2 separate regions of the Homo sapiens genome follow, and region 1 is linked to region 2. The links come from fine-mapping of genetic effects on gene expression. Tissue or cell type: CD4 T cells. Region 2 holds a variant in brackets; the other region holds the start of a gene. All regions are shown on one strand. Distances are between the middles of the regions.

Region 1 (2,679 bases), 43 kb before region 2:
AAAGAGCCTCCCCGATGGCAGTCAGGAGCAGAGGGGGGACCCTGCCTGGTCCAAGATGAAGACCTTTCCCTCCCACCTCCTGGGGAGCCTTGAATCTCCTCTCTCTCAGTCTTCATCCATCCCTCCACACCCCCCAGCCTCCTCATCACCCTCCCCACCTGGTTCTTCTCAGGACATGGATGCGTGCTGGTGTCTGCAATTTTTTCTTTTTTAGACAAAAGTCTCGCTCTGTCACTCAGGCTGGAGTGCAATGGCACGATCTCAGCTCACTGCAATGTCCACCTCCAGGGTTGAACTGATTCTCGTGCCTCAGCCTCCCATGTAGCGGGAATTATAGGCGCCCACTACCACGACTGGCTAATTTTTGTATTTTTAGTAGAGATGGGGTTTCACCATGTTGGCCAGGCTGATCTCGAACTCATGACCTCAGGTAAACTGCCTGCCTCAGCCTCCCAAAGTGCTGGGATTACAGCCATAAGCCACCACGCCCGCTATGAATAGCTTTTCATTTTATATTTTCTAAAGCTATTTCTTGTTGTAATAGAGAATTCCGGCCCTTGTGCATGCGATCGTTGACACAAAAGCAAATCCCTTCAACCCCAGGCTTCCATCCATCTGTGGCCACATTGCTGCCTTTCCTTCAAATCCTAACCTCCTCTGCACTTTCTGCAGCTGCCCACAGACTTCCACCCCACCGCTGGGGATGTGGCTCCGTCCAGCACCAGGTCACCGCCCTGCTGGGCACCTGGACCAGCCTTGACAGTGAAGTGTTCCTCAGCCTCAAGGGCACCCTCCCCTGCCTCCCGCCCAGCCCCACACTCACATCATGGCTCCATGCCCACGTACGCAGGTCCCCGGGGCTCCCTCTCACCTCCAGCCTCTCCTGCTGTTCCTTCTAGCTAGACCCCCCTCTCTACACCTCCCTGCCCCTGACCCAGCAGCCCTTCCACATGGCTTCACACCCCAGTGTCTCCACCTGGGTGCAGCATCTCCATGGGACCCCATGCTCAACCTCACTGCCAGATGCAGCCAACCCTCCCACCTCCTTCCCAGGACCTCAGCCCTGCTCCAGGGCACGTGGATGGAGCAGCCCCCGCAGGACCCCTCAGGACTCTGTTGATCAGGGTCATTGGGACCAGACACTGGGCCGTGTCCCTCATTTTGTCCAGGGCCTGACCCAGCCCTGAACCCTGGGTTCCAAGCAGTGGGGCTAGGGTCTGGGGGCCCTGAGGTCACAGGGATCCAGCCATGTGGAGTCACCTCCCTCCTGCCCCAGCATGTCCCACCCACTCTGGGCTGAGTGAGACCCAGGCAGACGGCAGGTCACTGCAGGGACCCTCATGCCCCGGGGCCTGGGCATCAACAGAGCTGATGCCTCCAGAAAGTTCCATGGATGAAGGAAGCAGAAACTTACCAATGGGGACTGCCCAGAGATTCAGAAGAAGGGGCCCGAGTCCCAGGGTCCAGAGAGCTGCCCTCATGGTCCCACAGCCCTCTGGGCTTCAGCAAGCTCTCGCTGCTTAGCTGGGGCAATGGCAGAGGTCACAGCCCAGAGTCACATATACAGAAGTGGGAGCTGCCAAGGACCTCCAGGGTCCAATGGGGACAGCCACAGCCTTTCCAGAGCGAATCAGCAGCTCTGCCTCTCAGCCGTGAGCAGAGCAGCCAATGCCTTGCTGGCCTGAGCATCACCAGACATGGGGAGGGTGCAGGCTGTGGGTTTCCTCCCACACTGATCAAGCTGCTGATGGGACTAGACCCAACCATCAGGCAGAGATGGTCCAACCTGCCCACAGCACAGCATCAGTGAAGCCCTGCGTCTCTGCCCTCCACCCGGGCCCGTCGGCTTCAGCCATGCCACCACCACAGAAGGCAGTGGCCCCAGACAGCCAAGGAGGCGTCCTCTGTGCCAGCAGATGGCACTAGCAGAGTTAGGGGTAGGGGTAGGATTAGGGTTTGAGTGGGAGTCCCAGCAGCACCAGAAGAATGACACGGAAGAGCTTTGCAAGAACTCTGAGAACTGAACTGTCGTTGGAATGAAAACCCTTGAGAGAAGATACAGTTAAGAATCACTCATCATATGAAGACCCAGGGACACGACCATTTCAGTAAGAGACAACCAACTAAGGGCGGCACCAGGAAGAGTCAGGTGTCAGAATTATCTGACAAGGATTTTAAAACAGGCATCATAAAAATGTTTCCACAACAAATTGCAAATGCTCTTGAAATAAGTGGAAAAATTGAAATCTCAGCAAAGAAATAGAAGTTATAAAAATGGAACAGGCTAGGCGCAGTGGCTCACGCCTGTAATCCTAGCACTTTGGGAGGCTGAGGTGGGCAGATACCTGAGGTCAGGAGTTCGAGACCACCCTGGCCAACATGGTGAAACCCTGTCTCTACTAAAAATACAAAAATTAGCCGGGCAGGGTGACATGCACCTGTAGTCCCAGCTACTCGGGAGGCTGAGGCATGAGAATGGCGTGAGCCCAAGAGGCGGAGGTTGCAGTGAGCTGAGATTGCACCACTGCACTCCAGCCTGGGTGACAGAGCAAGACTTTGTCTTAAAAACAAAATGAAACAGTGGTAAGGATGTAGAGAAATGGGACCTCTCAGATTTTGCTGGTAGATTCAAAAATGGTGCAACTGCTTTGAGAAAGTTTGGCAGTTTGTCAAAATGTT
Region 2 (2,679 bases):
TGTCTGTTCTCACCACATCTCAAATACTAAAAAAACCTGTCAATTGTATTGAAGACTGTAGCCAGTGCAATAAAGCAAGAAAACAAAATATGGCATCTGGACTGGAAAAGAAAAAGTAAGATGATCTTTATTTGCAAATGACATAATTGTCTAGGTAAAAAATCTAACTGGAATCTACAAAGAGCTAATAGAATGAATAAATGAGTTTAGCAGGGTTACAAGATACAAGATCAATATACAAAAATCAATTCTACTTCTGTATACTAGCAATGAAAAATCAAAAGTGAACATAAAAACAATACCATTTACAATAGTATCAAAAATAGCGAAGAGTTAATAGAGGGAATGACATCACCAAATAGAGAAGTAGAAGCAATCTGGCTTCCCTCACCCTCTCAAAGAAAACCAAAACCAAACATCCAGTGCCAAGAATATCACCAGCAATATTCCAGAACTCAAATCTGAGGATGAGACCAGAGAAGTGAAAAAAACTCCAGGCAGAAAGTAAGCTGCAAAAAACCTCTAAGCAAACATCCAAGAAAAAAAAAGCCAGACAGGAAAGCCTGGATAACAAATCCTTCAATGCAAAACCACAGACATATGTGCACAAGAAACAACAGCTAACGGAAAACCGCGACCTTCTCAAACAGACAAAGCAAAGAGCCAGTGGCCAACCCTAATGAGATGGCAACGTGTAAGCGCTCAAATCAAGAATTCAAGGTAACAGTTAAAAAAAAACTCAGCAAACTCCAATAAAACACAGAAAAACAACTCACAAATTTGTCAGACAAATTTAACAGAGATTGAAATTAAAAAAAAAAAATCAAACAGAAATCCTGGAAGTAAAAAATACATTTGCTGAAAAATATATTAGAGGCTCTCAACAGCAGAATGGACCAAGCAGAGGAAAAAATCAGTGAGCCTGAAGACTGGCTATTTGAAAACATATAGAAGAGGAAAGAGAAAAAAGAAGAATGAAAAGGAATGAAGAACACATGCAAGATACAGAAAACTGCCTCAGAGGAGCAAACCTAGGAATTACTGGGGTTCAAGAAGGAACCGAGCAAGAGGAAGGCACAGAAAGTTTATTCAAAGAAATAATTACAGAAAAATTTTCAAACCCTCAGAAAGACATAAATGTCCAGGTACAGGGAGG[T/C]CAGAGATCACCAAACAGATTTAACCCAAATAAAACTACCCTACAGAATATAATAATCAAACTCTCAAAAGTCAAGGACAAAGAAAGAATCCTACAAGCAGTAAGTAGTACAAGTAGTAAGAGAAAAGCAGCAAATATATTTATAAAAGAGCTCCAATGTAACTGGCAACAGACTTCTCCAGGAAATCCATATAGGCCAGGAGGCAATGGGATGATATATTCAAAGTGCTGAAGGAAAAAAAAATGCAACTGTCAACTGAGGACACACCTTCAAACATGAAAGAGTAAAGCTGAGGGAATTCATCAGACCCAACTTTCAAGAAATGCTAAAAAAAAGTTCTTCAATCTGAAAGAAAAAGACACTAATGTACAAAAAGAAAACATGTGAAGTATAAAACCCACTGGCAAAAGTAAACACACAGACTCAGAATAATACTGTGAATGTGGTGTGCATTCATTCACATCTCTAGTGTGAAGACTAAAAGAAAAATGTATCAAAAATAATAACTACAGCAACCTGGAAAGAGAGAGCCAATATAAAAAAAAATAAATTGAAATAAGAAAACGTGAAAATTTGGGGGAAAGATGCAGTTAAAGTACAGAATTCTTCAGTTTCTCCTTTGTTTCTATTCTTTCCTCTGTGATCACAGATAAGGTGTCATGTGTTTAAAATGATTGTTTTTTAAGAGAGGGGTCTCACTCTGTCACCCAGGCTGAAGTGCGATGGCACGATCATAGCTCACTGCAGCCTCAAACTCCTGGGCTCCAGCAATCCTCCTATCTCAGCCTCCTGAGTACCTAGGGTACAGTCACAGAGCACCACGCCCAGCTAAAATAACTAAATAACTTGTTATAAATATAAAATGCTTTTTGTAAGCCTGATGGTACACTACATATAATACATAGACTAAAAATACAAAGCAACAAATTAAAACATACCAACAGAGAAAATCTCTTAACCACATGCGAAGGAAGACAGTAAAAAAGGAAGAGAGGAGTTACAATCAGAAAACAAGCAACAAAATGGCAATATTAAGTCTTTATCCATAATAATATTGAAAGCAAATGTACTATATTCTCCAACTAAAAGACATAGAGTAGGCCAGGCACAGTGGCTCACATTTGTAATCCCAGCGCTTTGGGAGGCCAATGTGGAAAGATCATCTGAGGCCAAGAGTTCAAGACCAGCCTCAGCAACATAGCAAGACCTCGCCTCTACAAAAAATAAATAAATAAATAAATAAAACAGCCAGGTGTGGTGGCACACGCCTGTAGTCCTAACTATCAGGAGGCTGCGGTGGGAAGACTGCTTGAGCCCAGGAGTTCAAGGCTACAGTGAGCTATGATCACACCACTGCACACCAGCCTGGGCAACAGAGTGAGACCCTGTCTCAAAAACAAGCAAAAAACACAGAGTGGCTAAATGGATAAAAAACAAGATCAAACTATATGCTACCTATAAGAAACCGACTTTACCTATAAAGACATACGCAGACTGAAAGTCAAAGGGTGGAAAAACATAT

What was found. PIP is the estimated chance that this variant, and not a neighbour inherited with it, causes the effect.
Region 1: SCART1 starts here. The variant in region 2 is fine-mapped to the expression of SCART1 in CD4 T cells (BLUEPRINT, PIP 0.94).

Annotation. Positions count from the first base shown.
Region 1 is chr10:133,452,800-133,455,478 of GRCh38, reverse strand. It overlaps SCART1 (scavenger receptor family member expressed on T cells 1), which reads right to left and starts at 1,534. Exons shown (of 12, transcript NM_001396050.1): 1 at 1,415-1,534. The coding sequence starts at 1,481. RefSeq lists an enhancer at 1,760-1,809.
Region 2 is chr10:133,409,934-133,412,612 of GRCh38, reverse strand. All of the region lies in intron 9 of MTG1 (mitochondrial ribosome associated GTPase 1), which reads right to left. Among named protein-coding and RNA genes, the nearest start is that of SPRN, 13 kb to the left of the region's middle. The variant T/C (reference allele first, on the strand shown) is at 1,157.